3 separate regions of the Homo sapiens genome follow, and regions 1 and 2 are each reported to be linked to region 3. Evidence: microRNA targets listed by miRTarBase, many of them from high-throughput screens and not tested one by one. Region 3 holds a microRNA gene; each other region holds the end of a gene's coding sequence.
The links. The annotated mature microRNA hsa-miR-195-3p reads CCAAUAUUGGCUGUGCUGCUCC and lies in region 3 at 2,837-2,858, opposite strand. An mRNA with a match to its seed (bases 2 to 7 or 8) in the 3' UTR can be bound and repressed. Matches are read on the target gene's strand: a 7mer-m8 pairs with bases 2 to 8, a 7mer-A1 pairs with bases 2 to 7 and ends in A, and an 8mer does both.

Region 1: the mRNA of NRIP1 is a reported target of hsa-miR-195-3p. Seed matches in the 3' UTR shown: 7mer-m8 at 2,538-2,544, 7mer-A1 at 1,920-1,926 and 7mer-A1 at 1,025-1,031.
Region 2: the mRNA of GRPEL2 is a reported target of hsa-miR-195-3p. Seed matches in the 3' UTR shown: 7mer-A1 at 2,366-2,372.

What each region holds. Positions count from the first base shown.
Region 1 is chr21:14,960,969-14,965,111 of GRCh38, forward strand. NRIP1 (nuclear receptor interacting protein 1) reads right to left here. Exons shown (of 4, transcript NM_003489.4): 4 at 267-4,143. The coding sequence ends at 3,748. Among named protein-coding and RNA genes, the nearest start is that of ASMER1, 44 kb to the left of the region's middle.
Region 2 is chr5:149,350,716-149,354,858 of GRCh38, reverse strand. GRPEL2 (GrpE like 2, mitochondrial) reads right to left here. Exons shown (of 4, transcript NM_152407.4): 4 at 276-3,941. The coding sequence ends at 3,577. All of the region lies in intron 1 of GRPEL2-AS1 (GRPEL2 antisense RNA 1), which reads left to right. Among named protein-coding and RNA genes, the nearest start is that of GRPEL2-AS1, 4.9 kb to the left of the region's middle.
Region 3 is chr17:7,014,792-7,019,101 of GRCh38, forward strand. MIR195 (microRNA 195) reads right to left here and starts at 2,910; the gene lies at 2,824-2,910. It overlaps BACC1 (BPTF associated chromatin complex component 1), which reads left to right. Exons shown (of 6, transcript NM_174893.4): 1 at 1-87; 2 at 271-365; 3 at 983-1,084; 4 at 1,704-1,894; 5 at 2,119-2,223; 6 at 2,470-2,729. The coding sequence starts at 67. The coding sequence ends at 2,474. RNASEK-C17orf49 (RNASEK-C17orf49 readthrough) reads left to right here. Exons shown (of 8, transcript NR_037717.1): 3 at 1-87; 4 at 271-365; 5 at 983-1,084; 6 at 1,704-1,894; 7 at 2,119-2,223; 8 at 2,470-2,733. MIR497HG (mir-497-195 cluster host gene) reads right to left here. Exons shown (of 3, transcript NR_038310.1): 2 at 2,278-2,597; 3 at 1,027-1,223. It also overlaps MIR497. RefSeq lists a silencer at 1-373 and enhancers at 304-804, 1,217-2,416, 3,768-3,937.

The sequences.
Region 1 (4,143 bases), not on the chromosome of region 3:
GTTTAAAAATTTACAGTGATCAACTAGTTACACACTGAATCATGGGAGAAAGGCCATAGGCTGATTGTCACTTTGAGTTATGCCTTAATTACCCTGTTTCTAGTGCACTAACTTGCCAGCCACCTTCTTTTTTGTCCCCTTTATTTTTCTAAGAAGGGCAAAACATCCTTGAAGATCACTGTTATATTCATAGCAATGTGTTTTACGTTTATGGAAAACCTAAAAACCAGAGAAAGCCCACAAAATAACAGTCATTTCAAACCAGAGACAATGCATTTTTTCTCATTTATTCAAATTCACTGCAGGAAGTAAACACTAAAAGATTAAAAAACAAAACAAAAAAATTCACACTGCAGTATGTACAGTTTCATGACATCACATGAAGAAATTAAATTTCTAATAAAAATGGCAAATTATATTACTGAGCAGATCGCATCAAATTTGGTTGTGTAAACACCAGAATTCTTACTATGAATGGTAATGTGCCTATATTCCAGTATTGCTAATACTGGGATACTCTTGGAATAATGTTTGCAATGGGATTAAAAAATTCATGAAAGTAGTTGTGTGAATTCTTTATGTTTAAAAGTGGTTGACGATTAAAAAAATTCTTTAAGACCCTTCGAATCAAAGCACATTCTTTCACAAAGCTTAAACCACAGACGTCATGTCCAGAAATGGAATACTGTCATGTTAGGATGAACATCTGATCTGATTTGTTAAGACATTTTGCCAAATGCACAGATGCACAGGGTCCCCCATGCACTTTTCATGCAGCAGGTAATCACAACTTAAATAAAAGGTTTATTCTATACATTTGTCCAGACTTGCAACTGTATACATACATGCACAACTTTTAAACCTGTCTGATTATATTTACACTTATACATGGAATATACAGGAACCAAAGAGATTAAAAGGCTTTTCTGTTGCATTAGAACAATACAAAATATGTATTTTTCATTAAGGAAATCACTATTTACATCACCTTTAAAAACCGATTTTAACATCTTCATGTAACAAGTCAATATATATATATATACATATTATATATATATATATATATATATATATAAAATATATACTCTCACCAGTTTACTCTTCTGTAAGATGCAGCAGAGAATAAACAGGTAATGAATGCTACCTTACTGATGTCAATAAGCTGTAGTACCCTTTCACAAATGACTTTATTAGAAGAAATTGTCTAGATATCTAAAATAGTCCTTGAAAATGTGTATATGTGCATCCTTGTATCTACATATGCATAAACAAAGTGAATCTGTGGATGTATGCCCTTTCTCACTGTTCTTTAAAATCACCCTAAATTCAAATTGGGAACATTCTCTAGTAAATCAGAACAGCATTCTTCGTGGTCATGTTTATTTAAGTATTACATATTCTCATTCCTTTGTTAACAACAACGAAAACAACCAGCCAACCAAAAAAACAAAACAAAACCCACACACACACACACAAAAGTAGCAATGCTGGCCCTTGGTCTTTTCCCTGACCTAAATTTCACTCTCTTGTAAAAAGGTCATTTCCCCCTACCCAAGGGAGAATACCAACATATTTTTTCTGACATACCTCTAAGGCTCCAAACCTTCCACAACGATCAAGAAAAATGACTTGTTTAAAAGCTTATTTATATAGTGTTGACAATAAGATTGTCATAGTATGGACATGGAATAGAATATATTCAACTGGCCAGTGGAATTTTATGTCAGAATAAGCCTATGCCTTCACTTCTCCATGATGTTGCATAATACCCACTCCTATTACTGTATAATATTTCCAGTAGCTATTTACAAATCATTCTGAGGAAAAATAACCATTTAGGGTTTTAGATCATATTAGGAAATCACACCTATTTTTAATATAAAAATCTTAGAAACCACTTCAAGTAGAACAATTTTAAATCAATATCCTAACTAGTAGTGATTATAGAATAATTTTTGATAGGTCATTTGCTAACCTGGTTCACAATTAAGAACAAAATATCTGGTGAATGAATTGTGGATTGTACAAACTGAACATAAAAACAGACCTGTTTCGCAACTGAAACCCCATGTGGCTTCACTAATATATTAATTTCTTCTAAGACAGTATCAACATGTACTTTTCATCACTACTTTAAAGTAAAAGATCCAATGGAGTGATTGTGTACAATTCTGTCACGTATATGTGCCCTTTGTACTTTTTATTTAGTCAATCTGAGTTTAGTGCCCTTCTTGGGTTTAAACTAAATGTTGTAAGCTTTGTTGGCATTGTTCTTAGGACAATGGTTTTAATAAAGGTTAAGGATGCATTCAGGAGAAGTTTCCAAACCATCCTGGAATCACCTGAGTTTGGTAAGTGGCCCTGTTTTTCCATCCCTAAGGCTAACTAAGTAGATGTTACTCATTAGAACACACAAATAATCACAGATTTTCCTGAGATGTTGAGCCAGATATGAAAGTTATCCCCTCCACCCAATTTTTGTCATAAAAAGTGTTCTGAACCCGATTTCCAAAGACATAACGGTAATATATGAACTACAATATTGCAAATTTTGAGCTGATGTGTGACTGTATTGGGGAAAATAGAGGCATCACATAGTTTTTTGTTTTTGTTTTACAGTCTCATGTTCTGAGGAAAGTCATAAGTCATGGTTCTCAAACACAAGAAACACCTAGAGAGCATGTTAAGATGCAGATGGAAGATTCCAGGTCCACTTAGCAGAGATTCTTGTTCTGTAGATCTGAGATGCTGCCTATGAATCTGCATTTTAAAACAAGTGCTCCAGATGGTTCTAATGCAAGTGGTCTGAGTTCAGGTTTAAGGAATCCTGGTCATAACACTCGCAGGTACCACAGGAATGGTGAGAATTAACTTTTACAAGAGATGGTGAAAACTGTCCAAAGAAAAGCCATTTTGCTTCTGTTAAAAACAATTTCTTAAATATTCAACTTTTCAGGAAACCACCTAAAGATAAATGTTAACTTTTCTAATTCTGTAAAAGGAGGAGTATTAATTTAGTAAAGTAGTTAAAATACAAAAAATGGAAATCTGCCTTTTTTTTAAAGGATCTATCAAACTTCCCTCAATTGTAATCAATTTTTACTAAGTAGCACAAGGTTTAAAGAAATATATATTGAAAAGGATCAGGGTGGGACAGACACATTGGGAACCACAAAACCTCTTCCAAGAGTTAAAAATAAACACCTTTTTTTTTTCTTTTTAGCAAAAGTGAAAAATGTAAGCATATATTTTTCTAATTTATTTTTGAATTGGATAATAAGCTGTGAATCAGCACTAGGTTTTTTTTTATTGGATAATTATCCTTTAAAGAGTTGTTTAACAGTTTAGACTTTAAAAATGTGTTATGTAGGCTGACTTCTGAAAAGCAAAATAAAGTACCCTAATAAAGGCAGCAAAATGCATTAATCCACTATGAATGGAGTTTTACATTTTAATTTATGCCTAATATTTATAAAAGAATTTCATTCATAGGCTACTCACAGTTGTTATCTGATGCATACAGAAGTGTTAAACAACCAATTGCTAGTTCAGTAGTTTCCTCATGACATCTAATGTTAAGCAAAAATTAGTATGCATATTTCAACATCACCAGTAACCAATACTTTTCAAAATGAAAAAAGTTTCAATTATACCATGCTTTTTTTCAAATCATGCTCTTATTTATACAGATCTCAAGTTCATACTCATTAGTTTTAAAAAGATCCAAAACTGGATGGCAGGTACATTTTATTCTGATTCTTTCTTTATCGTTAGCACGCTTCCCAGAAGTCCATAAACTTCTCCATTTGCGCTGTGTGGGCGAGAAGCATTATTTCCCATATGGCTATTGTAAGGGCTTCTTAAATTAAAGAAAGAAGCTTTCGTTTCTGCAGTAGGAAGTAACTCTTCTTTGGCTGTGACCTGTGAGACACTTTCAGCAGATGAAGCCTCCCTCCAAATGTCCTTGTCTTGTGTTTCTCGACTGGTAACAGAATTGCCTCCTTTTTGAAGCATGTAATATAGTATTGGGTTGGTTTTGGTCAATCTTGGAGAGTCTTTTTCATACTCATTCTTCTCCGCATCAGTGATAACCCACTTAATGGGTCCTTTCTCACTGGGCATGGAACACCCATTCAAAAGCCC
Region 2 (4,143 bases), not on the chromosome of region 3:
AAAAAAAAAAAAAAAAAAAAAAGGCAGAAATAGGAATCCAGATCTAAGAAATATGTAGCAATCAGAAAGAGGCAAGTCAAGGAGGAATAAAACAGACAAGACTTCAACACGGAGGCAGGGTGGGGAAAGCCCACAGTGCATCCACTTGGCTATGCTGCTATGAGATCTCAAGGTACCTCTCCAGAGCATCAACAAGGCAGGTCAGCAGTCATGAAGTGACCATAATGTTCCATATACAATACGAATAGGCAGACAAAGACTCTAAACACCAGAGCTGCAGTTATTTCAATTCAGGTTTTATTAAAGTTGTTTCTGAATATTTTTTCTCAGTGATCCTTGTTCTGATGAATATTACATTTCATCCTTAGTTTTGCTCATTTGATTTTGCTTTAGTGTTTAAAGAACTTTTATTTATCAAATCCTTTGCCATGAATGAGAGCACCAAATAACATATCAATACCCAACTGCCTGATTCCTTTACAGCAGTAAGAAAAGTCAGTAAAACATTTGTACAGTCCAAGTACTACAACACCAAGATCCCCTCTTCAAGTGAGAGTGAGCCAAAGCTTCCTTAGTATCATCTCAAGTCAATGTCTTTTCACTATACCATTAAGATGAAAATAACTAAGAGCACTGACACAATTTTCTTGCTCTTTCCATCTAAAAATGTGGGTTTCCTGTGGTGTGGCTAATTTTAAAAACCAGAAAATGGAAGGAAAATAAGTCAGTGAATGATTAGCTTACAAGTTTTTTCTACTCATCATTAACCAGTCTTCCCTTTTCCCTAGACTTTAGACAGCCATAAAAAGGCAGGAAAAACAATGTGCATAATAAAAAAATAAAAATAAATATCTGAGCACCTACTGTAGTAGGCATTTAACACATTTCACTTAATCCTCACAACGCTGTGAAAGAATTATTATAATCATTTTACGAATAAAGAAACAGGCTCAGAAGGGTGAAATCACTGGTGCCTAAAGTCCTGCAGGTGACTGAGCTGAGATTTAAGTTCAAGCCTATGCTCTAATATGCTGCTTTGGCTCCCCAAAGCCCTTCAGCTTGAGATTCTTACTACTATAGCTTCATCTTCTAATTCTAAATTTACACTTTTAAGTCTGCAAAACTACTGAATAACAAAAGAACCTAAAATTATTCTGAATTTACTTGCCAAAACGGGAGGTGTAATAGACCATTAGAAAATTCTTCTAGCCTGGACAATATAGTGAGACCCCGCCTGTAAAAAACAACCAACCAACCAAAAAAAAAAAACCAAAAACCAAAAACCAAAAACCAAAAAACAAAACTAGCCAGTCATGGTGGTGCACTTGCCTGTGGTCCTGGCTACTTGGTAGGCTGAGGTGGGAGGATCACTTGAGCTCATTAGGTAGAGACATCTCTTTAGGTAATCATAACATTCCATACCTAAAATTATTGTTAATTGTAATTAATGTTAATTCTAACTGGTAATGATAGCTAGCAATAAAAAAACACACAGAGAGTAATTACAATCAGCTCATTTTCTTATTGTCACCATCTGTCAAATCTCACAGAATGGAAGGCAAAAAAAGACAACTTCCTATTGTGAACCTTGATTGTTCATTAAATTTACAATATATACTTAGTGGAATGCCAAAAGATGTTCTGGTTTTACAAGCTTAACCACCAGTCTTTTGATTGCATTTTAAAAGTGCATATTTACTTGTTTTTTAAGGGTCTAAATCTGATGAAGATGGTAAGGCCCACAAGGAGATGGCTTTATTGATAAGTTTGTGTGCTGTCTTAGAATTATCTATAATGTATAAGAGGTTAACTTTCCACCACTCCACTGAATGTCATAGAGTTCCAGTGGAAAATGAATTTTATTTTATTTTATAACTTCAACCTAAACCTATATAATCTAGACATCCAACAACATCTGATTGTCTGCTGGAGACTTCATTGCATGCCCATTAATCTTAAATGGAGACTTAATTGCATGCCCATTAATCTTAAATGATTGACATTAATATCTAGTTGTTCTTCATTCATACTCTCACTGGAATTTAGTCAATAGTTTAGAGATTATTTTCCTTGTGTCCAGTCCTAAAAAGACTAGATTTTCATACTTCAGAAGCAGAAAGGGTGAGATTTGATCATTAAGGCCTCTTCCAACATTAAAATATCCATAATTGACTGCCTTCCTAAAATCTGACTGATGTATCATTCATTAAGTCGTTTATTGGACAAATCTTTTACAGAACACCAGCTATAAGACTGAAAAAAAACCACATAGGCCCATTAATTCTAGAGGTTAATATATAAAAGGTGAGCTCAATGTTTACACAGATGTGACTTAACAGATACAAAGAATAGGAAATAGAGCTTGTCAATATAACAGAGGTAGTGATTTGTGAGTACCAACTTAAAAAAAAAAACAACAAAAAAACTTTGCGGGCGCAGTGGTGAACGCCTGTAGTCCTAGCTACTTGGCAGGCTGAGGCAGGATTGCTTGGGCCCAGGAGTTGGAGGTCAGCCTGGGCAACACAGGAAAAAAAAAAAAAATTGCCAAGAGGAGAGAATACTTATGTTAAGTGTTCTTATCGCAAAAAGTAACATAAATAGAGCCAGAGGAAACTTAAAAAAAAATTCAGCATTAACTATTAATAAATGAAATGAGAAATCATGGGAACCTAACACTTTTGTCCTGATCACCACCTCCCATCATTTAATAAAGGATTATAAGGTAAAATTGACAAAAGGGCAGAGGAGTAAAGGCTGGTGGAATAAGTTGTAGGTAAATTACCCAAATAGAGCCATCTGGGTCATTAGCTGTTAGTGTTGCCTCAGTTTGCCTGAAATGATTATATGACAAGGAGGCTGAAAATAATTTGAAGAGCAAAGACAGCACAAGGCTTTTTGGCCATTCTTGCTTGAAAGGGTCCTGGGTATCTCAAATTTCGATGCTCCTTGCCTTCCAAGTCTCATCTAGACCTTTAGCCCCTGCAAATGGGGATGAGAAAGGGGTGGGTATGGGACAATGATGTGAGCATAAAGCCTATCTAGTTGGGATTACAAGAACAAAAGATGGCTAAAAGGAAAAAAACAAAACAAAAGGTAAAGTCCTGAAAATCTATGTGTATAAAAATCAATCCAAATGATCTAAATTTATACGACCACGAAGCTTTATCCTCTAAGTACCCAAATGTTGAACCAATCCCTACCATCTCCTTTTTCCACAAAATACAAGATACTACACAATTCCTGTTATAGAGACCGCTAGGAAGAAACATGTAGTTGAAAACCCATAGTTAAAAGGATTTTGGATTCAAATTTATCACAGTACCAATTTTCCTAAACATGTTTTGATAAAGGCCATTGGAACACCTGTCACACTGTTCAAATGCCCAATGGTAAGACTTCTGATGAGACCAAACAGGTCACATTAAATCAATAGAATATCTTAGAAATAAAGCCAATATGACTAAATCCAAAACATATCACATGAAGTACCTCATGTACAATACAAACCTAGTTTAATAAATAAAAGAAACATAGGTGACTGCGCTCTGGGAGAACATCCAGTTCCTGATGGCCTCTTCACAGTCTTCTCTGAGACTCCACTGCCACTTCCACTCGGGCAAGCCTAATGGTGCGGCCATGAAGTTTGTAGCCATCTTGTCTTACTAATGCCACGGTGCCAGGCTGCACCCCAACACCAGCTGGCACATGACAGATGAGTTCATGCTCATGGGGGTCATATTTGTCACCAATGGGTGTCAGTTTCTCCAGGCCATGCTTGGCAAACACACTTTTCAGCTTTGCTTCTAAAAGCAACAACCCTCGGAAGACCTTCTCCAGAGTGAGCTTTTGGTCCTCAGGCTCCGATTCTTCAGAAATGCACTCTGTAGTCTTCTCCAAAATGTCAGCCACCTCCACCAAGTCCTTACAGAAACTCTGGATTCCTGCAGAGAAGCCAGTTATTTTTATTGTTTGTGAGGAAATCACTCTGCCCGTGGGCATAGAGTTTGGGTAAGGCCTAGATAGACGGCTAGTATGCTGAGTAGTCCAGCAAGTGGAAAGGTTGCCACACAGGACTCAGAGATCATCACTGATTACCACCCCAACCCAACTGACAAGTCAGTGTCTCTCTCAGAAGGCATATAT
Region 3 (4,310 bases):
CTCTCCGTGGTCCCGGCTCGCGTGTAGCGGCGGCGGCGGCGTCTCCGTGAGGAGGCGCGCGGGGCCATGACGTCAGCGTCCACAAAGGTTCGACCTCCCTCGCGGACAGCGCTCCCTGGCGGCCACGGGAGGGCGGGCCCCCCACTTGGCTCGCGGCTCTTCCGCCCCGGGCGGGGGGCGGGCGGGAGCCGAGCCTGGGGTGGGGCTAGGGGCTCCGGGCGGGACGGGGAGGGCGGGCGCCGGCCCCCCGTGACGCTGCCCCGCCCCCAGGTCGGAGAGATCTTCTCGGCGGCCGGCGCCGCCTTCACGAAGCTCGGGGAGCTGACGATGCAGCTGCATCCCGTGGCCGACTCTTCTCCTGCGGGGTACGTGAGCCCGGACTGGGACGTGGACGCTGAGAGCGGGCGCTTGGACTCGGTCACAGACACGGACCCTCTCTAGCACAGGGACAGACATTAGTTTCCCTTTGTGCGTGGCACAGCACAGAGTCGGTGTTAATAAATGATCGTTGGGTGAGGGAATGAATGACAGATAAAAATACAGACAGGCCCATAGCCCAGACTCCTGTTTCACAGTTCTCCCTGCTGCGAACGGGTCGACCACAAACCACCGCCACTCCCAACCACCCCAGTTCATGGAATTCCCCCAGACGGCTGCAGGCTGTGTTGGTGGGTCTGTTTTGAAAAGCCCTTCCTGGCGAGTTGGTTTCAGTGTGCTGTGTACAGCAGCCGTTTAACGTTGATGGTGGAAAGGGGTGTCTAAGGTGGAGGTGGTTGTGATTTCTTGTGATTGGGGTCCTCCCGGTTCCCGCAGGGCCTCAAGAGCTTTCCGCCTCCCCTTACGGAGGACCTCTTTATGCATCCGTGGAAGGGGTCCCAGAAATCGGAAGGAGGCGGCTGGTTGGCTGTGGGATGCATAGCCTGTGGGCGGGCTCCACACCCCCCCTCCCATTTTTGCTATCCCCCCTCTCCCCTTCTGACAGTGCGAAGTGGACGGAGACGGAAATAGAGATGCTGAGGGCTGCTGTGAAGCGATTTGGGGACGATCTTAATCACATCAGCTGTGTCATCAAGGAACGGACAGTGTGAGGGAGGGTGGCTGCCAGAAAAGGGCGGGTGGGCAGCCTTCTTCCTCCTTACCCAAGGTTCCATCGTCCTCAGAACTCCTTTCCAGCTCAGCTGCTTCCCTACTTTGTCACTAGTTTTTTAGAATCCCCTTGAGGACTGAAAGAATAGAATTGTCACAGTTGGTCAGAAGTTCCTAAAATGCTGTGGTAATCCTTCCAAGAATGTGAATTTAGGTTGCCTGAGATGCTGTTATTGTATTTGATGATGGAAGTCCCCTGGTTATTTATATAAATGTTTGAGGACCCCACTGCAGTGTTTCCAGGGATATGGTGACCCTGAACTAGTTGATCAGTAAATCTCAATCCACCTGTAAATCACCAAGCTCTACCTGATGTCTCTCCCAGAAGAGAATTAGGAGATGGGCCTTTCCCACTACTCAGTTCAGGGACTCCACTCTCCACACTCCATCCATCCTGAGTGAGTGTAAAACTTCGAGAAAGTGAGAACCCTACCAATGGGTTGGGGCCCCGACCTGGATTCTTATGAAGGGACTCCCAGAACCCCTTCCCCTCCCGTCCCCTCTTCTGTTAGTCTCTCTGATGACTCCTTTCCTAACCTCTTCTCTCTTTTCTTCAGGGCCCAGATAAAGGCCACTGTGAAACGCAAGGTATATGAAGATTCTGGCATCCCCCTTCCAGCTGAGTCACCCAAGAAAGGGCCCAAGAAGGTGGCATCTGGTGTCTTGTCACCTCCTCCAGCTGCCCCTCCTCCCAGCAGCTCCAGTGTCCCTGAGGCCGGGGGTCCCCCCATAAAGAAACAGAAGGCTGGTGAGGGCTGTGGAGTTGCTGCCTAGGGGTTAAAGGTCCCATCTGAGGTTTAGTGAGAGAATTGGGCCTGGGTCAAAGAAGGGTCAGTCTCTCTTCCTGTCCCTGTGGAGGTTCCCAGAGAGGGGCAGAGGGGAGGGGAGAGGAGGCACAAAGCTTTGGGAAGCTTGGGGCTGGGGGAGAGGCTGTCAGGGGAACCTAGAACCTAGCTTATGCCCCCTTCCCAGATGTGACACTCAGTGCTCTGAACGACTCCGATGCCAACAGTGACGTGGTGGATATTGAAGGGCTAGGAGAAACTCCTCCAGCTAAGAAACTCAACTTCGACCAGGGTAGGAGTCCTCCTCCTCCCACACAGCTGACGGGGTTGGGGAGAAAGGGCTCACCTGGATGGCAGGGCACGGTCTCCGCAGGGGCCCCTCCCTTGTATAGGGGTTTCAGAAGAGAAGGTGCTCTCATACACAGCGCAGGGCATTGGATCAGTACGTAGCAGGGTGTTTCAGGGAGGTGGGAGTGGCCTTGGAAGCACACTGGGGGCTCGCTCCATCTCGGCCCATTTTACTTCCTGTTCCAGACAGCCTGACCCTGGATTCTGGCCTTCTCATGACCTCTGCTGATCCTCCTCTCCTCTCCTGCTGAGCCTTCCACCTCTGACCTCTCACTGTTCATGCCGGACCTGTGGATCTCCTGGGACTCCGAGCAAGGCCTGCACGAGAGAGGGCTGAAAGGCTGCTGGGGCTGCCACCTCGCTATTCCCGCATAAGCATCTGCCCCCAACCCCTTTGACCTTCATCTGATGGACATTTTTATACAGAAAACAATAAAGATTTCCCTCTCAGCTTCGTGCTGTCTGCTTAACATTATTAGCAGGAGAGGCCTGTTCCCTCTTCTCTCCTCGGCCCATGGGGGCTCAGCCCCTCCTCGGTAGTTTTCACCACCCTGCCTGGAGCAGCACAGCCAATATTGGCAGACTCGCTTCCCTGTGCCAATATTTCTGTGCTGCTAGAGCCAGGGAAGCTGGGTGTGGGCAACAAAGACTCCACTTTGTTCTCTTGAGGCAGAACTTACTCCCAGGGTCTCTGGCCATCAGTATTCTTGAAACTGCCCTGGAGATTTTAGAGGGGTGCTTACATACCCCACCCTCTCCTTGCCCACCTGGCAAGAAGTTTGTCACAAGGCCCCAGATGTTTTTTGTGTCACTTCTCCAGGATGGCCTCCCAGGGCCAAGCCTCGGCGGTGCCTCCCCCACCCTCGCTCTAACACCACAGTGTGGTTTGGACGTGGCCACAGTGCCGTACAAACCACAGTGTGCTGCTGGGGCGGGAGCAGGACCGGGGTGGGTTGAAAGGAAGAGAGCACATAGCAGTGCTGGGAAGACCCCAGCACCACCTCCAGGAGCGGGGGGATAGAGAAGCCTTAAAAGGCAAACATGGCCCCCAAAAACGTTTGGGAGGAACCAGGGACGGGCTGAGCAGGCAACTGGAAGGCGACGGACCATGGGGATGAGCTCACAGTGTAGTAAGATTGGACCATCTTCCCTCTGTAGGAACTCAGCTCAGGGGATCCCTAGGGTGGGGTCAGAGGCAGAAGAAATAGGGAATGACTGGAGGGGCCAACACACTGCCTCCTGTCTCAGCAAGGGCAGGGACCCAAGGCTTCCTGTGTCCGTCCTTCCTCTCCCTGGGTCAGAACCCAAGAGAAAAGCAAGGAGAGACAGAGGGCCAAGGCCAGCAGGGTTGGGAGTTGGCAGTCCAGAGGTGGTGGGGCCGGAACATGGTTGGGAGAGGGGGGCCGGAAGTCGCCCTGGGCCCTGGGCCTGCCACAAGATGGAGGCCAAAGGCAGGAAATGGAGACCAGGGGGAAGGGGAGCAGCAGAGCCCAGGAAGAGGGCCATCTGGACCTGGGGGGCCAGGTATTCAACCCCCAGTGCTGTTCCCACTCCCCAGGGCCCCTGAGGACCCGAGCCGGCCCCCACAGCAACCTCCATCAGCCCATCCACCAGGCCAGGGCAGGCGGGCCCACCCCAGAGAGCCACGTTTAAGCTGAGACAAACATGCCTCTCCCCACCCCCAACTCCAGGCCTTCCCTCAGCCCTTTTCTCCTGTCCAGGACTTGATTTTTTAAAAACACCCCTCAGAAAGCAAAATCCAAGGGCCAAAACTCCTTTTGCAAATCAAAATATGACCCCCTAAAATCCAGAAGTTATCTTCCTATATCCCATCGCATCTTTTACCACCCCCTCTTCCGACACACCCCCCAAAACTCTTAGCAATCTGAAAGATCCAAGGTGGTGTATGTAAGCAGTCTTTTTAGGCCCCCGAAGATGCCAGACCCCTCCCGGACACCCCTATCTGCCCTCCATCAAATCTTGCCAAGGCCTCCTGCTCCTCCACCACCCTCCATAGCCCCCAAACTAACA